3 linked regions of the Homo sapiens genome follow. The protein of the gene in region 1 purifies or fractionates together with the protein of each later gene. This does not show direct contact. Each region holds a gene or a part of one and is shown on either strand. Other genes may lie near its edges.

Region 1 (8,176 bases):
ACTGAAGTGAGCTGAGATCACACCACTGCACTACAGCTTGGTTGACAGAGCCAGACCCTCTCTCAAAACCAAAAAGCCAACAAAAAAAGAATACTGGAGCAATGCAATGAAAGAGTACTTACACAAATTCCACCACTATATCACTAATATGTCTACAGACATTTTTCTTGTCACAACTAGGAACAGCAGTACTATTGGCATCCAGCAATCAGAGGAGTGGTGCTGCTAAAACCTCCTGCAATACACAGGACAGCCCCCACAACAAAGTATCTAGCCGAAAACGCCAGTAGTGCTGAGGCTGAGAATCTCTGACACAGATGAACTACCCATATTCCTATCTAAAGCCTATCCCTCTGCTAGATTCCTTCCTCTCTTGTCTACTCCTGCAAGAATCCTCTCCCCAATTCCCCTATATCAAATTTTTGCTTTCTACTGGATCATAAAAGAAAAACTAATCCCTTAGCCTAACGTCTGCTGTCATCGTCTACCCTGTTTTTCTTCCTACCTTTTTTGAAAACTCCCCCACAGGGTAGCCCATACTCACTATCTCCACATCTTCTCTTCCCATTCTCTCTTAAACCATGCAATCAGGCTTTCACTATCATTTCACAAAACTCAGCTGGTTAAGGTTATCAGTGGCCTCTACACTACTAATGCCAACAGTTAACCTGTACTCCTTATCTTACTTGACCTATCAATGCCATAGCTCACCACCTGGCCCTTGATACATTTTCCTCATTTGGCTTCTAGGACACCACCCTCCACATTATTCTGATTTCCTTCTTACCTCAATGGATAATCCTTCTCATTTGCTACATCTTCCCCTGGTCCCAACCTCTTAACGTTGAAGTGCTCCAGGCCTCACTATACTCAGTCCTTTTGCCTATCTACATTCTCTCCTTTGGGCATCTCATCCAATCTAATGGCTTTAAATTTCATCTATATGTCAATAACTCCCAAATATGTATATCTAGTCCAGATATCTCTTCTAATCTCCAGACTAATACATTCAACTCCTCACTACATATTTCTACTTGGATATCATATGTCCAAAATGAAACTCTTGATATTCCCTACAAACCTATTCTTCCCCACTCCAACTTTCCAATTGCTCAGGCCAAAAATCAGGGCTTATCTTGACTCTTTTTTGCACACTCTACATACAAGCCATCAGGAAATCCTTACTCTACCTTAAAAAACATATCTAGAATTCAATACTTCTCACAACATCCACCTTATCTGTGGTACTGTATAAGCCTTTTTTAAAAAAGACAGGGTCTTGCTTTGTGCCCTAGGTGGGAGTACAGCAGTGCAATCATGGCCCACTGCAGCCTCAAATTACTGGGTTCACACAATCCTCTCGCCTCAGCTTCCCAACTACCTGGGAGTATAGATGCATATCCATACTATATCACCAGGCCCAGCTAATTTAAAACAAAAAAAAATTTTTTTGTAGGGATGGGGGGTGTTCTCAATATGTTGTCCAAGTTGGTCTCAAACTCCTGGGCTCAAGCGATCCTCCCGCCTCAGCCTCCCAAGTAGCTAGGACTACAGGCATGTGCCATCATGCCCAGCATTTTTTTTTTTTTTTTTTGGTGGAGATGGGGTCTAGCTATGCTGCCCAAGTGGTTCTCGAACTCCTGGGCTCAAGCAATCTTCTCCCACCTCAGCCTCCCAAAGTGCTTGGACCATAGGTGTGAGCCACTGTACCTGGTCTCATAAGCCTCTTAACCAATATCCCTACTTCTATCACTGCTTGCCTACAGTTTATTCTCAACCCAGTAGTGAGAGTAATTATTTAAAACAGAAGTCAGATCATTTCACTGTTTGTTCACAATTCTCCAATGGCTCCCCCTCATTTCACTTAGTGAAAAGCCAAATTCCTTACAATGGCTTATAAAACTCCACATAACCTGGTCCCCAGTACTCTCTACTCTCATCCCTGATCTCTTGCCCCTTTGCTCACTCTACTCTATCCACACTGGCCTCCTTGCTCTTATTAAGAAAACACTTCAAGCTTGCTCCCATCTTAGGGCCTTTGCACTAGCCATCTCCTCTAAGAGTATCTAGTGATGATATTCGGCCAGGTGCAGTGGCTCACAGACCTGTAATCCCAGCACTTAGAGAGGCTGAAGTAGGTGGATCACTTGAGGTCAGGAGTTTGAGACCAACCTGGCTAACATGGTGAAACCTAGTAAACATGGTGAAAATCTAGTAAAAATACAAAAATAGCCAGGTGTGGTGGTGCATGCCTGTAGTCCCAGCTACTTGGGAGGCTGAGGCAGGAGAATTGCTTGAACCCAGGAGGCAGAGGTTGCAGTGAGCCGAGATCATGCCACTGCACTCCAGCCTGGGCAACAGAGCAAAACTCCGTCACAAAAAACAACAACAACAACAACAACAACAAGAGTATCTGGTGATATTCTTTCCTCAGATCACTCTTAGCTACTCCCTTATCTCCTTCAAGTCTTTGATAAAGTGACATCAGGGCCACCCTACTACCCCAATCACCCTATTTAAATATACATACAACCTGTCCCCGCTTTGCCCCATTACTTTTCTCCACAGCACTTATCACCTTCTAACATACTACACAATTTTGTATTTATTTGTTTATCTGTTTCCTGTACTAGAATGTAAGAAAAAATATAAGTGAGCAATTATATACATCCTATATATAGTCATCCAATATCCACTATTTACTATACTTTTGTCCTGTTTCCAAAGGAATTCCCACCAACACTTGGGCTGCATTTCTCCAATCTTCTTCTTTCTCATATATAGATGCAAGATGCTGTCTTATGGAAGCAACCTGGAATAATAGGTATACATGTCAAATTATTTCAACTGACATTAGTAACTAATTAAAATAAATAGGAAAGTTATTCTAAAGTGGCAATTCAACATACTAAGCTGCCACGTAAACAGTAAACGTTTATCAAGACCACCCAAGTTTTCCTACGAATTTTGCATTTACAGAATATCAAACTAGTGAACGGAAGCAACACATTTCTGCAATGTGGATTATGGTACAATACTGTAGTTTAAACATTAAATTTAGCTTGTATGTTCCTGCATACACGATGCTGGAGTTTTCCTGTGTTTTCAGCTGAAATACCAATTTTACTGATTTTAAAAAATTGTCTAGAGAGCAATATTTGATTCACAAAATCAAATTTTACTTTATAAGCAAATGTCAGTTGGAGTTGTAACAACCTAATATTTACTTGATTTTGCATCATAAAATGTCGTTTGGCACACTGTTTTGTCAAAAATGAAATTGGATGATTATCTCCTTTAAGAATTTACTAATATCAGATTCTCAAAATAACTGCTGCTATCTCAAGTTAAAAAACCACTTCTCTAGATTTTTACCTGCTCCTCAAATGAAATGACTCTAGGCTGGATCTTTTCCAAGGTGAAGTGATAGATTTCTTTGGCTGTGCTATCAGGCAAGTTAGGAAGATGTGTGCAAAAATCAGTCAGCAACTGCCGCGAGATCACGAGACTGACATTCTCATTTACCACTTGTTTAAAAAAAAAAAAAAGATAAGAAAACATGAGCTGATAAATTGTCATTAAACAATCAACCTTTACTTAAAATTAATACTAACAACAATCTATATTAGTACAGCCTTCAATGCATTATTCAAGGATTTCCATACCCCTATCATTTTATATTACATCATCAGTTTTCCTTATGCTGAAATACTTGATTACACAATGACCACACAAAAACAGTAAAAATAGGCCAGTGCGATGGCTCACGCCTGTAATCTCAGCACTTTGGGAGGCCGAGGCAGGCAGATCACGACGTCAGGAGTTCGAGACCAGCCTGACCAACGTGGTGAAACGCTGTCTCTACTAAAAATACAAAAAAAAAATTAGTCAGGCATGGTGGTGGGCACCTGTAGTCCCAGCTACTCAGGAGGCTAAGGCAAGAGAATCGCTTGAACCTGGGAGGCTGGGGTTGCAGTGAGCCGAGATCACAGCACCGTACTCCAGCCTGGGCAACAGAGCTAGACTCTGTCTCAAAATTAATTAATTCATTAATTAATTAAAAAATCTTAAAAAACAGTAAAAATAACACAACTTTTCTAAGAAACAGAAATAATTGAAAAAAGTTTTAAAAGTTGATAATTTTATCTCATTTTTCTACAAAGTGAAGGCACAAAAACACCTATATTTTTATTTATGTGCTTATATCCTACCTTGTTCCAAAAAGGAGTTAAAAAAGAAAACAGTAAAATAATTTTCATGAAATTTAAATAAAGCAAGTGCTGCCAGTACAGTTATTGCCACTTATACTTTCCCAATAAAAACAATAAATAAGAACTTCAGTGAGCACTAGATGTATTGACATTATTTATAAACATTTACGAGGTATTATTTTATGTGATTAAGCTCTGGAGCCACACTGCTTCTACCACTACTGATTATATGACTTCAGACAAGAAACTTAACTTCTCTATGCTTCTCTGTGCTTCTGTTTCCTCATGTGTAACATCTATTTCATAAGGTTGTTATGAAGCTTAAATGCAATAATATACACAAAGCACTTTAAACAATACCTGGTACATAGCACTCAACAAATGTTACTATTATAACTATCATTTTAAATGCATCATTCTTGTAAACTATTGCTTAGATAAATTATTCAAGTCTTTTTTATTATTATTATTTTTTTTTTTTGAGACTGAGTCTCGCTCTGTCGCCCAGGCTGGAGTGCAGTGGCACCATCTTGGCTCACTGCAAGCTCCACCTCCCGGGTTCATGCCATTCTCCTGCCTCAGCCTCCTGAGTAGCTGGGACTACAGGCACCCGCCACCACGCCCAGCTGATTTTTTTGTATTTTTAGTAGAGATAGGGTTTCACCGTGTTAGCCAAAATGGTCTTGATCTCCTGACCTCGTGATCCGCCCATCTCGGTCTCCCAAAGTGCTGGGACTACAGGCGTAAGCCATGGCCCCGGCCAATTATTCAAGTCTTAAAGCAGCAGTTAATATGAAAATAAGTGATTCAAAAACTGTTCAGTTGATGTAAATGATTTTAACAGTAGACTGCTTTTCCTGGTGGTTTACTGGATTCAAAGCTTATACAAAGATCAAAAAATATATATATATATGTTTTTTAATTGTTTTTTTGAGACAATCTTACTGCTGCCCAGGCTGGAGCGCAGTGATGCAACCTCAGCTCACTTCAGTCTCGACCACCGGGGCTCAAGCAGTCTTCCCACCTCAGCGTCCCAATAGCTGGGACTACAGGCATGCATCACCACGCCAGGCTAATTTTCGTATTTTTTTGTAGAGACGAGATTTCTCCACATTGCCCAGGCTGGTTTTGAACTCCTGAGCTCAAGTGATCCCTTGGCTGGGTGCCATGACTCATACCTGTAATCGCAAAGTGTTGGGATTACAGGCATGAGCCACCGTGCCCAGCCAAGATCAAAGTTATAAAAAGCATTATTCTTCTGCTACTACAGTGCAAAGTTCTTAATAAACCACTCCTAACAGTTTTTTGGAAACCATTGCTAGTTTATCTCACACCGGAGGCCATGATTTTTTAAGGCAGTAACCTTTTAAGTTTTAAGGCAGTAACTTTTTAAGGCAGTATTTTTTTAAGGCAGTTGTAATTAATTAATCACATATTAATTGGAATTCATTATTGGGTAATACAGGATGTGACTGAGAAAACAGTTTCATTACAAGTGTCATTAGGCATTTAAGTTACCATACAAGCTGGTATTACTCAGGGAAATATAAGCAAGTAAGAGCAGTGTATCAGAAAACCTAGTTTCTGATCTGGGCTCTGCCAGCTAAATGTCCTTGAAAAAAAGTTACTCAATCCTGAGACTTGTCTTACAATATATTATACAGGGATACCTGTACCTATACGTTCTAGTCACAGGTTATTAAAAGGAGCCTATGTGACAGGTAATGTGTGTGAGAACACACTGTAAAGCACTATCAGATATCATTAATGATGTGAACTCACTATAAAATTCCATGTGAACTCACTATAAAATTCCTTAGGATAATGGCCTACAGACATATGCATGTTGCTGCACAGGACATGATTGTATTCTTTTTAATGTGTGCGTAGTATTTTATGGTGTATATGTGGCACATATTTCTATCCAATTTATTGATTCACACATAAGTTAAGTCCATGCCTTCCTTATTGTGAATAGCAATATGGCGAATATACAAGTGCATGTGGGGTTTCTTTTTGTGGAATTTTTAATTTTCTTTTGGATATATACTCAGTAATGGAATTGCTGGTTGAATGGTACTTCTGCTTTAAATTCTTTGAATAATCTCCAAACTGCTTTTCACAGTGGCTGAACTAATTTACATTCTCACCAACAGTGTATAAGCATTTCATTTTCTCTGAAGTCTAACCAGAATTTGTTATTTTTTTACTTTTTAATAGTAGCCATTCTGACTAATATTAGATGGCATCCCACATTGATTTGCATTTCTCTGATGATTAGTGATGTTGAACATTAAGAAAACAACCCCATTAAAACATTGACAAGGGACATAAGCAGACACTTCTCAAAGTACAGTACTGTACTACCCTGTAGTACAGTAATGTACTATAGAGTACATTTTAGGTACATTAGATGTACTACAGAGTACATTTTAAAGAGGAAAAGGAGGCACAGAGAGGTTAAATAATTGACCCAAGATCACACAGCTCATAAAATAGCATACCAGGATTTGAATCCAAACTATTCTCTTTACTATTATGCTATATTGTCCCTTATCAGCTATTATAACAATAAACATACAAAACTTTAATTAGGATTGTAATTCTGAAGATAATTCACTGAAAATTAATCAAGTTGTAAACAGTTTAAATTCTAAAATCAATCAATCTCAATGCATATTTAATATTGATAATTTGATACAAAACAAGGCTTGAGAGAACTTTAAAGTCCTAGCTCAGTAATACAAGGCAAGCATGAAATTTCCATTTCACTTACTTGCTTCCACAAAAGCTTTCAAAGCTTCTAGTTGTTCTGCTCCAGATAACTGAATGGCTTTTTCCAGGATCTGACGATACCTACAACAATACCAAATGAAAATAATGTTCTGAGGGTACTATATTTTCTAATGCAAACTTTGATGTGTATTTATTCATTTCTACATACCTTGGTTTCTTTCATAGTACTATAGTTTGTGGTTTTCTTTATAGTATACCACAGATTTTTTTTTAAGTTTCTAGTCTATCACAAGAGATATTAAATCTATAATTATATAAGGTACCACTTCATCTAGTTTTCAGTATAGTATACCAGAATTTTTTAAGTTTTCAAGCTCATCACAAGAAAGAATGAATCTATAATTCTGTTACTGAATCTAAGGTGTCACTTTTTCTTGAAGGTTTTATTTTTGAATTTAAACTACAAAGTCAATTTCCTTTCAAATGCCTTAAAAGATAAGCTATATTTCCTTCAACTGTGCAATACATAGACACACAAAAACATTATTTGAGGTGACCTGAATCTTTTCCTCTTACAGACGTAATGTATGTAGGGTCACCAGCAATAGGATAATGTTGACCAGGCAACGAAACCAAACATTAAAGACTGAATGTCTTAGTCTGTACAAAATAAACTTCGCCAAGCCAAATGCACTGATAGAATACCATTTATGCTGTCAGACAGTACCTATTTATTCTTTATTTGCATTCAGATCTAATAACTATTCTACCTAATATCTGTGACCACACAAGCTCCACGAGGACAGGAATTCTTGTGTTTTGTTCTCTGCTATGTAGACAATTATCTCAATTCTTGGCACATCATAAGCACTCAAATATTCAACGGTATTAGTAATGTTTTATTTCTTAACGAGTGGTTAGTATATGAGTGTTATACTATTCTTTTGTTGTTGTTGTTGTTGTTGTTTTTGAAGACGGAGTCTCGCTCTGTCACCCAGGCTGGAGTGCAGTGGCGCAATCTTGGCTCACTGCAACCTCCACCTCCCAGGTTCAAGCGATTCTCCTGCCTCAGCCTCCTGAGTAGCTGGGATTACAGGCATGCGCCACCACGCCTGGCTAATTTTTGTATTTTTAGTAAAGATGGGGTTTCACCATGTGGTCAGGCTGGTCTCAAACTCCCGACCTCATGATCCGCCCACCTCAGCCTCCCAAAGTGCTGGGATTACAGG
Region 2 (6,584 bases), on another chromosome or scaffold:
GGACATGGAAAGCTGAACACTTTTCTCATAGTAGTAGCGGTCAAGGTTACATCACAAGATTTTAAGGAAATGATAACAATAACTAACTTACTCAGCGTTTACAGCCTACACCGCGTTTTCCACCACGGTAATAGTCTACTGTTGCTGTTGCTTATGAAAGTCAGCCCAGGCCTGTCAACCCGCGTTGTTTTCAGAACTGAGATTTACTGTCCTGCCACGTGTGGGATGCAGGATAAGCCGGGAAAGTATTATGAAACGTTTTTTACATGTATTTATCAACCCAGGAAATACTGAACTCTGATGACGCCTGGCCTCTCAGGGACAGGACCGGCCACACGTGCTTTGGAGGGAAAGTCCCCAGATTCCATGTTGTGCAGTTTGAGCCTCCCATTCCATCAAGGGAATAAAGTTGAGATGCACTAAATAGTCGAACACTTAAGAGTCTGGTGGAAGTGCCACTGTCCATCAGCCCACATTTGCCCCCTTCCCTGCAGAGGTGAGGTGCCGTCCTCAGGGCCCTGGGAAGCTCCAAAAGCACCATCAGGTTCACTGCCCCTTCCTCCCACCAGCTGGAGCAAGTCTCCTGTTGCCACTGCAAACAATCAGGCCCAGCGCGAAGCAGAGGTGAGCAAGAGTGGAGTGTGGCAGACCAGGGCACCTGCTCTGCTCTCGGGTAGAGAGTGGCAGACCAGGGCGCCCACTCTGCTCTCAGGGGTAGAGTGTGGCAGACCAGGGCGCCCGCTCTGCTCTCGGGTAGTTGGGTTTTTTTTTTCTTTGAGATGGAGTCTTGCTGTCCCCCAGGATGGAGTGCAGTGGCACGATCTCGGCTCACTGTAACCTCTGCCTCTCGGGTTCAAGCAGTTCTCCTGCCTCAGCCTCCTGAGTAGCTGGGCTTACAGGCACGCGCCACCACACCCAGCTAATTTTTGTATTTTTAGTAGAGACAGGGTTTTACCGTGTGGTCAGGCTGGTCTCAAACTCCTGACCTCGTGATCCGCCTGCCTCAACCTCCCAAAGTGCTGGGATTACAGGCGTGAGCCACCGCGCCCAGCCTCAGCCACATCTTGTAAAATGTGTGGCTTATCACTGAATAGAAGGTGAAGTTTGTTTGGAAAATAGAGGGTCTCCCTTGTATAGGGAGAGCCTTGCACGTAAGTGCTCACACAGATTTTCTTCCTAATACAGCAGAGCTGGAGTGGCTGTTCCCTCTGGGCAGAGACAGGCTGTGGCTGTGGATTCGTCTCCTCAGTCACCTACTCTTAGTGCAGGAACACTGGGGATTGTAGTTTCACTTACGTGGACATGGCATGCAATAACTATGTAAATACACGAGAATAAAACTACAGGCCAGGCGCACTGCCTCACGCCAGCGATCCCAGCACTTTGGGAGCTGAGGCAGGCGGATTGATTGAGCCCAGGAATTTGAGACCAGCCTGGGCAACATAGTGAGACCCCTTCTCTACAAAAAATAAAATTAGCCAGGCATGGTGGTGTGCAGCCTGTGATCCCAGCTACTGGGGAGGCTGAAGCACGAAGATTGCTTGAGTCCAGGAGGTGGAGGCTGCAGTGAGCTGAGATCGCACCACTGCACTCCAGCCTGGGCGACAAAATGAGACCCCATCTCAAAATAAATAAACAAAATAAAATACACTACTTAGGCAGAAGCATCCTTTCAAAGGATAAAAGTTGCCCCAGTAAGACATGTTGAGATTTTCCTTTCAAATAAAAATGTGTCACGTGATCGGGTCTGCCTCACTTATACGTGCCCTTGCTGATGGCAGATGTCGGATCTGCCTCGCTTATACGTGCCCTTGCTGATGGCAGATGTCGGATCTGCCTCGCTTATACGTGCCCTTGCTGATGGCAGATGTCGGATCTGCCTCGCTTATACGTGCCCTTGCTGATGGCAGATGTCGGATCTGCCTCGCTTATACGTGCCCTTGCTGATGGCAGATGTCGGGTCTGCCTCGCTTATACGTGCCCTTGCTGATGGCAGATGTCGGGTCTGCCTCGCTTATACGTGCCCTTGCTGATGGCAGATGTCGGGTCTGCCTCGCTTATACGTGCCCTTGCTGATGGCAGATGTCGGGTCTGCCTCACTTATACGTGCCCTTGCTGATGGCAGATGTCGGATCTGCCTCGCTTATACGTGCCCTTACTGATGGCAGATGATGTATGTACATTTCACAAGTTTCACGTTTCCCTCAGGAAACCACACTCTGACCATAAACTCACATGGACGCTTTTTTTATCAAGAGATAACGTTAACTTTGTCTTTAAAATAGAAAGTTTTGTTCATTTCATAAATATGTGTATAATTATAAATGATTTTCATATAAATATCTATTTGTATATATATTTCTATAAGTATAGTTACATACTTCATGCATATACCCCTTGTATGTAAATGTTTGTAAATTTAATGCCATTGTAATTAGGGGGGTTTTATTCTTCTTTTTTAGCCTGGAGATTTGAAAAAGAGAATTGAATCTCTGATAGACAGAGACTATATGGAGAGAGACAAAGACAATCCGAATCAGTACCACTACGTGGCCTGACGCATCTGCAGACGGTTCCCCTTCATGAAACACTAGAATGTACCCTCAGAGCAGGAAGCACACCTGTGCCATTTCTGGGACTCTGATTGATCCAGCTGTGGACATTGGAAGGCGAAGGAAGGGAGGTGGCTCCTGGGTCATCTTTCACAAGGCTCAAGACTTCAACCTGCAGATGTATCTTTTTCCCTCCAGTTTTTCCTCTAGTTCTTTTAGGCATTTAAATTGTTTCTGTTACTCTGTGCAAAATAACTTTGAGATTGGACAAGAAGATGTTACTAAAGAGAAGTTCCTTTAAAAGGTCTTGTTCTTGTGTCAAAAAGCTGCAAGTTTGGTTTGTTCTCGTGTGTGATCATGAGTGCACAATGAAGAAGACCCTAGATGCTGCATTTTTTAGCTCTGAAGATTCCTTAGGTATCCCTGAAGACAGCTCGCTCAGATGATCAGCATTTAGAGTGAAAACAAGGGCCCTTCATGGGTGAACATTAGAAAGAGCCAGGGTTCAAAGCTGGCGAATGGATGACGCACCCTAGCCACTGGCCCCTCTCTGTTTCATGTATTTCCAAAAGTTGTAAACTTTGATGGCTGATTTTTCGTAAGTCAGGTTTCTAAGTGAGCTCCCTGAGGTGCCAAGGCCATGGTGTCCGCCCTGCTGCGTCTGTTCGTCAGCTGAGTTCCTTGTGAATCTCTGTTTTAGGGTTTGGGGCTAGTGTGTTTGTGTTTCCATTCTAAGATTGAGTCTGGCAGTCCCTGTTTTTTTGCATTGGGGTAACTGCTCTTTGATTTTTTTTAATTGCAGTATTTGTGTGATTGCAATAATAAAGTTTGGTTTGGTTTTTACAGTCATGCGCAGGGACGATCCTTGTTCTCTGCTGTAAACTGTAAAAAGTTTATGGAGACTTAAAGTCTTGATGTTGTGAAGCAGAGGTTATTTTGTGGAAAGATTAAAAGGATTTTGTTGGTACCTGGTTTTGTGTTGTGTATATATACATGAGGTTGAACAGTGAAAGGAAAGTTCAGTAGTGATGTTAGAAGGGTAACTATGACAAAGATACTTTTGAGATAACATTTAAAAGTACTTTATATTTTACATAATAGCATGTTTCATTTTGATTAAAAGCTACCAAAGGAATTTTGATCATGGCATAAGTGTTTAAAGCAATATTTTCTGGAATATACCAAGTTTATATAATTTGATTTTGTGCTAAATTATTAAGAGTCTCTTTTTGAAACATGCGGGTTTGAAATATGACACCTTGTGGGTTTCCATATTAAAATCCTCACTCTTTAATTGTCATTTCTATCTTTGAAAATTTTCATTTATGAGTTCCATGATATGTGGTCTAAGAAAGACCAAACAGATTTCTATTTTTTTTTTCTTATAAGTTCGTTGTGTCTAGAGATTGTTAATATTGTAATTTAATGTAGACTTACTTTGAATAAAATTAGTTTAATTGGCCTTAAAATTACATTAATAAAACTTTGTGATATGCAAATGACACATTCTTCATAACTCTTTAGCAGCTTTGACTACTAGTGCACTAGACAGAAGTCAGAGCAGGGAGCACCTGTCCCCTCTCAAGTGATTATTCTTTCCTGGCCACCTCTACCACAAAATACCAGTGGGGCCAGGTAGTGACAAGTGGGTCTTTTTTACTTGGACGATTCGTTGTGCTGTGCCTTTGTTTCATTTGAGCACAGTGGCTCACGCCTGTAGTCCCAGCTATGGGAGGGCAAGGTGGGAGGATCGTTTGAGCCTGAGTTCCAGACCATCCTGAGCACCATAGGGAGATCCTGTTTCCATTTTAGTTTATTTATTTTTAATTGAGGTGGAGTCTTGCTCTGTTGCCCAAGCTGGAGTGCAGTGGTGCAATCTCAGCTCACTGCACCCTCCGCCTCCTGGGTTCAAGCAGTTCTCCCACCTCAGTCTCCCAAGTAGCTGGGATTACAGGCACCCGCCATCATGCCCAGCTAATATTTGTATTTTTGTAGAGACGGGGTTTCACTATGTTGGCCAGACTGGTCTTGAACTCCTAACCTCAGGTGATCTGCCCGCCTTGGCCTCCCAAAGTGCTGGGATTACAGGCGTGAGCCACCATGCCCGGCCTGCCTGTTTCTGTTTTATAAAAGAAAGGAAAATCTATTTATATCTATTCTCTTATTTAGCAATATTTAATGTTTTATTGTTAAAGGTCAGTGTGGTAAAACAAATAGTATAGAAGAAATCATTGAAAAAGAAACAGCACTTAGACAGAAATGCTGTAAAAGTGGAAAGGAGAAGGTGAAATTACTTGCAGGTTAGATGGTTGCATACCCAGGTCATCTAAGGAGCAAATGAAAATCTGTGACTGAAGAAAGAATTCACCAAGTTAACCAGACACAAAATTAACAAAAACATCAGTAGCTTTCCTATAAATATAGGCTATAATGGAGGGTCATTTTTTATTTTTATTTAGAGACAGGGTCTTAACTGTCACCTGGACTGGAGTGCAGTGGCATGATCATGTTTCACGGCAGCCTCTACCTTCTGGGCTCAAGCGATCCTCTCTTCTCAGCCACCTGAGTAGCTGGGCCTACAGGTGTACATCACCACGCCCAGATAATTTTTATTGTATTTTTTATAGAGGCAGTGTCTTGCTATGTTGCCAAGGCTGTTCTTGTACTCCTGGCCTCAAGCGAACCTCCTACCTCAGCCTCCCCAAATGCTGGGATTACAGGCATGAGACACTGCACCTGACCAGAAGTCATTTTTTCAATAGCAACCCCCAAAAAAGATAAAATACCTAGTAACAAATAGGGAAACACCTATGTGAAAGGTATTATAACATTACTAAGGAACACAGGCCCTGAATAAGTGAAAGTTCTGTTGATTCTCACATTTTGCTATACAGTATCTTAAGATGTAAAACCTTCCTTTAAAACACAAGCGGATTCTAAAGTTAAAACAGAAAAGCAAATATGCCAGACTAGTCAAATTGTTTTAAATTCTGCTGTTTTTAGAACATTGTAATTGAAACAGCATGATGCTGGCCCTTTAAAAAGATTCCTGGAACAAGAAAGTCCACAAATAAGCCAAATACACAGGAACTCGGCGTGGCACAAAGGGGCCGTGTGTGATCAGGAACTGGAACTTTGCAACAACTACCCATGCTCAGAAGTTTGGGCCACCTTGAAAAGAGAAAAGTTGGATTAGACTCCTTTTTATACTAAGGGAAGTTCCAAGTGGTCAAGTATTTACGTGTAAAAAAATACATATATATGAAACCATAATCATAAGATACTTTTTTTGTAAATTGACTATTATTGTATAAATTTATAGAGTATAAAGTGATCTTATAAATTATGCATACATTGTGGACTAGTCAAGCTAGTTACATCCATCACCTCAAATACTTAACATTTTTGTAGTGAGAACATCTGAAATTTACTCTTAGCAATTTTGAAATGTACAATACTCAATTTTTGACTGTATTCACCATGCTGTACAATAGAACTCAGAAAAAGAAAAATATAGTCCTCCTTTCTAAGATTTTTGGACCCGTTGCCCCTTTATTTGTGTTTTTCCACTAAGTGATCTAGTGAATTCACATCGATTTTTTTAAAAAAGGATTGACATTAAATGACATCTTTTAAAGTCAACATGGGGGAAAACAAGGTTAAAAAAACTGGAACCCTTGCCGGGCACCATGGCTCATCCCTGTAATCCCAGCACTTTGGGAGTCTGAGGCGGGCGGATCACGAGGTCAGGAGATCGAGACCATCCTGGCTAACACAGTGAAACCCCGTCTGTACTGAAAATACAAAAAAAAAAGCCCAACGTGGCGGCAGGCGTCTGTAGTCCCAGTTGCTGGGGAGGCTGAGGCAGGAGAATGGCGTGAACCCGGGAGGCGGAGCTTACAGTGAGCTGAGATCACGCCACTGCTCTCCAGCCTGGATGACAGAGCAAAACTCCATCTCAAAAAAAAAAAAAAACTGGAACCATCTTGGATAAAATGTACGACAAAGTACTGATGAGTTTAATGTTAACAG
Region 3 (7,588 bases), on another chromosome or scaffold:
CCCTGCTCCAACCCTAACCTTGGATACTTTTGGCCCTTTAACAAATCGCCACCTCTGCTTGCAGGACTTGATCCCATGTGTGGGCTCCAAGGCCTTGTCTGGCCCACACCTTCTTTAGTGTCTCTCACTTCCGTGTCCTGGCTTCCTCCTGGCTCCAGATGAGAATGTGGTAACCTAGGAAGAGTGAGACCAGTCTGACTTACACTTTCTGTTACCAATCTCTCAGAGCCTGGGGCTGGCCCGCAAACCTACAATTTGGTAAAGAAATACTAGGAAGGCCGGGCGCGGTGGCTCAAGTCTGTAATCCCAGCACTTTGGGAGGCTGAGGTGGGCGGATCACGAGGTCAGGAGACCGAGACCATCCTGGCTAACACGGTGAAACCCTGTCTCTACTAAAAATACAAAAAATTAGCTGGGCGTGGTAGCGGGCACCTGTAGTCCTAGCTACTCGAGAGGTTGAGGCAGGAGAATGGCGTGAACCCAGGAGGCGGAGCTTGCATTGAGCCAAGATCACGCCACTGCACTCCAGCCCGGGGGGACAGAGCGAGACTCCGTCTCAAAAAAAAAAAAGAAATACTAGGAAACTGGACAGTAGCCAGGCATTGCATGACCAAGACAAAGCCAGAGGAATGGAGGGCCTTGGCTATAGAGACCACTGTCTCCCAGCCATCTTCTTCGTGGGCCACTGCCCTGGGGTGAATGTGGCAGGGCGGGGCTGAGGCTGGCCCGCACTGAACCTTGGGAAGTAGGATCGGACTTGGCAAGTCAGAGACATTCTCCTCCTACTCACCCATTGCAGAGGCCAGCGTGTCCCCCATGGGATTGAATTCATTAAGCTGCAGAGACAAGAGTGTCAACATGAGGAGAGGGTGAAGGTATTAGCAGAGACACCTGATTTCTGGTCACTTTTGGTCAATAAGGTAGGTTGAATCCCTGCTTCCTCCCATCATTATTTGAGGACCCAAGCCTCACCGAACTGATGCCAGAAGATTCTGGGTCATAGAGCTGACACATCATCTTCCCTGAGTTTCCATCGAACACGTCGATCGTCCTCAATTCATAAGGGGTACAACTTTTGAAATTAGGATCTGGGTATCGGCCCACAACAATGAGGTTGTAGCGAGGATGCCAGGCTGCCTAGGAGATGGAGAGGCCGGCCATGAGGGTAAACACAGAACATGATCAAGGGGGACATCAAAAACAAATATGAACAAAGAGGAACATCAAAAGTATTCTTTGGGCTGAGTGCAGTGGCTCACACCTGTAATCTCAACACTTTGGGAGGCTGAGGCAGGCGGATCACGAGGTCAGGAGATCGAGACCATCCTGGCTAACATGGTGAAACCCCGTCCCTACTAAAAATACCAAAAAAAAAATTAGCTGGGCGTGGTGGTACATGCCTGTAGTCCCAGCTACTTGGGAGGCTGAGGCAGGGGAATCACTTGAACCCGGGAGGCGGAGGTTGCAGTGAGTGAAGATCATGTCACTGCACTCCAGCCTAGGTGACAGAGCAAGACTCTCAAAAAAAAAAAAAAAAAAGTAGTATTTGCCAGTAACAAGCCAACCTAATAATGGAGATAAGTCTTACAGAAAACTACAAGAATGGTTTTAGGTTGTGTGTGCCTCTGCCATTGCACATTTTTAATCCCTAGCTGGCCTCCCTGGCCCTTAGGGCACCTTCAGGCCTTCTCCCTCATTTGCATTTCCTAAGATCATACCAACTGGTAAACGTTTTAACATCAGCCTGACCCAGATACTGACCTAAGAGGCCTACAACAAAGCAGAAAAAGCCTCTGGTGACCAAACCCTAACAGGACTTGAGTTCTGGAGGAGCCCCACTGTCATCCTGTCTCCATCAACACGAATAACTAAGAGCTGAGTGTAAAATTGCTAATGGCTAAAAAAGAGAAGGAAACCCACATTCCCCAGATCACCCCACTAAAAACAAATCTGGCAGTTATTAAAATGGCAGAATTGGATGGGATTTTCCTAAACTTCTCAAGGAAGTTTTGAAGGAAGAAAGACATGGTTAGCAGGAAGGAAGAAATAGTACATGCGAAGGCTTAGAAATAAGTCACAAATCACACACAGGAAGCTGTAATGACTTACGACACCTGGCTAGATACAAACTGGGACATGCAGACAGATGGATTATCGGGAACACTGATGGATTAACAGGAACACCAACTGGGGAAGGATTCTTGACATTATTTATTAAGAGCTTGGATGTGATTGAGGTACGTGGGGGCCACTCAATATTCAATCATCATTTATTGAATACTTACCAGTACTTACCAGGTGCTGGGCATGGGGCCAAGTGCTTTAAGTATACTGACTCATCTTCACAACAACCCTATCAGTTAGAGACTAGTATTCCCTTTTTGCAGATGAGGAAACAGATCCAAAATATAAGTAATTTGCCCAAGGATTCTAACCCGGGGGGTCTGGCTGCTGGAAACTGGCGCTCCCCACCACTATTCTGAACTGACCAGAGAAGTATAGGCATAAAACCTGAAGATCTGAAGAGGATCTGTAGTTTTGGAAAAGAATGCAGAACTAGCAGAGCTCAGTCTGCATGGGGGCTTAGGCAAAAAGGCATCAAAGGACTTGAAAGCTATTAGTGTTGGGGACTAATGATAGAGAAGCTATTAACAAGAGCCTGAGAAAAGGTGGGAAAATAAAAGACTTATTTTTATTATTAGAAGCACTGAAACCTGCAAGACAAACTAAGAAGGCAAAGTTGCCAGGCGCAGTGGCTCATGCCTGTAATCCTAGCACTTTGGGAGGCCAAGGTTGGGGGATGGCTTCAACCTAGGAGTTCAAGACCAGCTTGGGCAACATGGCAAAACCCCATCTCTATAAAAAATAAAAAAATTAGCTGGGTATGGTGGCGCATACCTGTAGTCCAATCTACTTCCGAGGCTAAGGCGGAAGGATTGCTTGAACCCAGGAGGTTGAGGCTGCAGTGAGCTATGTTTGTGCCACTGCACTCCAGCCTGGGTGACAGAGCAAGACCGTTTCAAGAAAAAAAAAAAAAAAAAAAAAAAGGATCAGCCTGGGTAACACAAGAATACCCTGTCTCTACAAAAAAAAAAAAAGTGAGGCAGGAGGATCGCTTGAGCCTGGGAGATCAAGGCTGTAATGAACCATGCTTGCCCCACTGTACTCCCACCTGGGTGACAGAGCGAGACCCTGCCTTAAAAAAAATAATAAAAAAATAAAAAATGAAGGTTTGTGGGTCAACTGTACACAGGTAACTGAAGCTGAGAAGACAGAACAGAGGGTCAGGATCTTAGAAAATTCTCACAGTGAGATCAGAGCTGGGCTGAAAAAACTCAGAAAAATATCTTATCAGCGAGACAGAAAACTCAACCATATGGGATGGCAGAAGTGGGATAAAAGGAAGAGAGAGAGCCAATGGGTAAGAGATGCTCTGTGCTCGGGCCAGGAGCGATCTGGGGTGGCAGGCTTACCACATCAGCCCTTCCCCACTGTGGGCAGACCTGCTCCGGCCTCATGATCACAGCCTCCTTCTGCGAGCTCCTTCCCACCGCCACTCACCTTGATGGGTGTGAGGTGCTGGAAGTGACGGTGAGGGTGCGGGATCAGGCCCAGGGGGCAGTCCCACTGGGAAGCAGAGTAAACTCGGATCTCGCTCTTCTGGTCCGTGGTCAGGAGCCGGGCTCCATCGGGACTGAAACAAGCTGGCAAAGTGAAAAGCCCCTGAGCTGAAGGAACCACAAGCCCTCTGTGGTCCTGGCCTTGCAGGCCTTCTCCTGCAGGGGTACTCTCCCTCCCACTCCTCTCTAGACAGGAGCGGAAAGGAAGAGGTGAATCTGGGCTGTGAACAACAACAAAAAAATTCTGGAAACTCAGCAGCTGATGGGGACAGCCACAGCCACAAAGGTTCCCAGACATCAGCTTGGCAGACGCTATCAGGGGTAAAGGTTTGACGTAGTGGCTTCCACACTGAGGGAAAACCCCAGCAGTGGTCAGACAGGCAGGGTCTGCAGGAGAGATGAGGTCTGGGATATCACACCTGCGTTGACAGGATGCCTGTGCGGCAGCGAGTAGAGGAAGCTGGCTTTCCCTCTAACCTGGCGCAGGTCCCAAATTTTCACTGTTTGATCTACGGAGGCTGTGGCCAGGAACCAATCACAGCATGGGTTCAGGGCCACATGCGTCACTTTCTTTTTGTGCATTCTGAGATTCCAAAGCTGCAGAGAAGAGCTCGGTTCAGGTGGGGACACAGAACCGAGGTGGGGGTGAGGGAGGGAAAGGCAGGACCTCGGAGAACGCACCTCTTTGCCGTCCATGTTCAGCAGGATCACGTTCCCCACGTTGTCTCCTGTGACCACCATTCGGCTACTAGCAGACACATCCAGGCTACAAAACCAGATGCTGGAGGGAGAGACTGTGTTGTAAGATTCTTGGGGACAGAGATAGTCCTATTTACTCACTGTTGCCGCTCCGGTGACTAACCCACAGCGGGCATTCAATAAATATTTGTTGAATGAATGAATAACTGTCTTGCCGTGGATTCCTAGTGAGGAACATTCAGACTGCTCTACCGTCCAGACAGAGGGGATGGGATAATGGGGCTCAGAAATCTGTCTGGTTATGGCTGGGCCCAGGATCCCCAGCTCCTAAAAGTCCCTGAAGCAGACAAAGCTTATACCATAAAGCAAGCCCTGAGGCACGCCTGCCCCCCACACCCCGGGTTCTGAGCAAGCCTCCTTTACTGCTCTCTCCTTTCACTCTTCACCCTTTAGGCCAAAGGAGACACAAGCCAAAGAGGGATTGCCTGGCCCTGTTCCTCAGAGCTGGCTAGAAAAGCACTTCTGCCCCCTTCTGAACACTGGGGGAAAAAACACAACCAGGAGCTCTTCTGGTCCCTCAAACCACTGGACTGGGAGGCTGACTAGGAGGGTGCTTCAGGGATCCTGCTATTCAGCCAGAAGAGCTCAGCTCACAGTTTTTCTCTCAAACTCTCAAATCCATGCTACACTGCCTTTTGCCATCCCCTATGAATATCTTCAAGCAGGAAGATTTCTTGCGGAAGAGTAGCCTGGAGCCTTGTCTATCCAATTGCCTGCTGATTTGCGTGCGCATGCACTCCTCATCCCTGCGGGACAGCCCAGGATCCAATCCAATGCTAGTTACACCCCAGCACCCTCACTTAATTCCTCAGGGAGCAGTCAGAGTCACGGCTCTAGCTGGAAATCAAAGTGACGAGTATTCTGTAATTTTTTTTTTTTTTTTTTGAGATAGATTTTCGCTCTTGTTGCCCAGGATGGAGTGCAATGGCGCCATCTCGGCTCACTGCAACCTCTGCCTCCTGGGTTCAAGCGATTCTCTTGCTTCAGCCTCCCAAGTAGCTGGGAATTACAGGGGCCTACCACCACGCCCAGCTAATTTTTTGTATTGTTAGTAGAGATGGGGGTTTCACCATGTTGGCCAGGCTGGTCTCGAACTCCTGACCTCAGGTGATCCACCCACCTTGGCCTCCCAAAGTGCTGGGATTTCAAGCATGAGCCACTGCACCCGGCCGCATTCTGTAATTTCTCCAGCCACTTTCTCTTGGGAAGTCCAGAGCACTTTATGGAAAAGATTCCATCCATATAAGCTTCCACCCAGGAACAGGTCAGGTCATTACACCACAGTGAGTGCAGGGCATTCAGTCTCAAGTTCTGAGCTGTTGCTCCATTCTCTAGGTGGCTTTCTGGGTCCACGCCATGCTGGCTTATCTAGTGAGGGTCAAGGTCCAGTCTAATACAGGTATGACTTACAGAAGAGCTGAGGCTCCAGAACACCTTCCCAAAGCAGTAACCCACCTGGACCAAAGTGAGGGCAGCCAAGGAGCAGTTTGAGAAAGAGAAAGAAGGGCGGAAAGTGGCTGACATCTTTCCTTTCTTCCCTGGGCCAGGTTGGGTTAAGGAAATGGGATCTGGATGCTCTTGCCGGAACTACACCTAAGCTTAGAAGCCCTTTCCCCTGCTAGTTAAACTACTCACTTGATGGTGTCTGAGCTGGCAAAAACTCGTAGAATGTTGCCTTTAAAGTCTTGCAGCCTAGTTGTTCCCTCCATTGAGGAGGCGTAAAACTGGTTGGTATTGAGAGGGTTAAACTTCAGCCCAGTGATGCTCCCTCCAGCTCCAATCTAACACGAGGAAGGAAAAAGCCAGTGAGTGATGATGGGCCTGGCCGTGAGGAACCAGGCCTGGGCACACATGCTGCGCCGTCACAGAAGCACCCCTCGAGCAGCGCTTGGGGCCAGGTCAGCTTAGACACTAGGACGCTCTCTACAGGGCCTTCACTTCTTTTTCTTTTCCTTTGAAATAGGGTCTTTCTCTGTCACTTAGGCTGAAGTGCAGTGGCACAAACACGGCTCACTGCAGCCTCAATCTCCTGGGCTCAAGCGATCCTCCCACCTCAGCCTCCCAAGTGCGTGCCACCATGCCCAGCTAATTTTTCTATTTTTTTTTTTTAAGATGGGGTTTTGTCACGTTGCCCAAGCTGGTCTTGAACTCCTAAGCTCAAGCGATCCCCCTGCCACGGCTTCCCAAAGTGCTAAGATTACAGGCATGAGCCGCTTTGTCTGGCCCCTTCATTTCTTTCTTTTTTTTATTTTTATTTTTATTTTTATGTTTTTGAGATGGAGTCCTGCTCTGTCACGACCTCGGCTCACTGCAACCTCTGCCTTCCAGGTTCAAGCGATTCTCCTGCCTCAGCCTCCCAAGCAGCTGGGATTACAGGTGCCCACCACCACGCATGGCTAAATTGTATATTTTTAGTAGAGACAGGGTTTCACCATGTTGGCCAGGCTGGTCTGGAACTCCTGCCCTCAGGTAATCCGCCACCCTTGGCCTCCCAAAGTGCTGGGATTACAGGCGTGAGCCACCGTGCCCCGCCTCCCTTCATTTCTTAAGGCTTTATTTTTACTTTTTTTTTTAATTAACATATAGCAAATTTGGGATATAAAGTTCTCTGAATTTTAACATATGTATAGACTTAAATAACCACCACCCAAATCAGGATGCAGAACATTTGCAACAGCCCAAAAACTCCATCGTGGTATCCCATTGTAATCACACCCTCCCCTCGCCCCCAGCCCCTGGCTGATCTGTTCTCCATCACTATTGTTTTGCCCTCATAGAATGTCCTATAGACCGAGCACAGTAATCCCAACACCTGGGGAGACTGAGGCGGGGGGATTGCTTGAGGCCAGGAGTTCAAGACCAGCCTAAGCAATATAGGGAGACCCCATCTCTACACACACAAAAAAAATTTAGACATGGTGGTAGGTGCATGTGGTTCTAGCTACTCAGAAGGCTGAGGTGGGAAGATGACGGAAGCCTGGAGGTCGAGGCTGCAGTGAGTTGCGATCGAATCACTGCACTCTAGCGTGGGTGACAGAGCAAGACCCTGTCTCTAAAAATAAAATAAAATAAAATTAAAAATAGAATGTCATGTAAATGAATTAGGCAGTATGCAACCTTTTGAGACTGTCTTGTTTCATTTCACTCATCATGCCTCTGAGATTCATCTGAGTTTGCTGTATCAAGAGCTCATCTCATTTTATTGCTGA

What was found.
Region 2: the proteins of COPS4 (region 1) and CUL4A purify together in Homo sapiens (affinity purification with mass spectrometry; 7 studies listed by BioGRID and IntAct, with this or other methods). This does not show direct contact.
Region 3: the proteins of COPS4 (region 1) and DDB2 purify together in Homo sapiens (affinity purification with mass spectrometry; 9 studies listed by BioGRID and IntAct, with this or other methods). This does not show direct contact.

What each region holds. Positions count from the first base shown.
Region 1 is NC_000004.12:83,044,517-83,052,692, reverse strand, and holds part of COPS4 (COP9 signalosome complex subunit 4), read right to left. Parts: intron 7,068-8,176; coding exon 6,988-7,067; intron 3,528-6,987; coding exon 3,376-3,527; intron 2,813-3,375; coding exon 2,709-2,812; intron 1-2,708. UniProt on the Homo sapiens protein: Component of the COP9 signalosome complex (CSN), a complex involved in various cellular and developmental processes.
Region 2 is NC_000013.11:113,261,025-113,267,608, forward strand, and holds the end of CUL4A (cullin-4A), read left to right. Parts: intron 1-1,895; exon of another isoform or gene 1,896-1,975; intron 1,976-2,462; coding exon 2,463-2,558; 3' UTR 2,559-6,084; downstream 6,085-6,584. UniProt on the Homo sapiens protein: Core component of multiple cullin-RING-based E3 ubiquitin-protein ligase complexes which mediate the ubiquitination of target proteins. As a scaffold protein may contribute to catalysis through positioning of the substrate and the ubiquitin-conjugating enzyme.
Region 3 is NC_000011.10:47,231,386-47,238,973, reverse strand, and holds part of DDB2 (DNA damage-binding protein 2), read right to left. Parts: intron 6,161-7,588; coding exon 6,015-6,160; intron 4,402-6,014; coding exon 4,302-4,401; intron 4,218-4,301; coding exon 4,040-4,217; intron 3,705-4,039; coding exon 3,562-3,704; intron 1,138-3,561; coding exon 973-1,137; intron 837-972; coding exon 791-836; intron 175-790; coding exon 125-174; 3' UTR 1-124.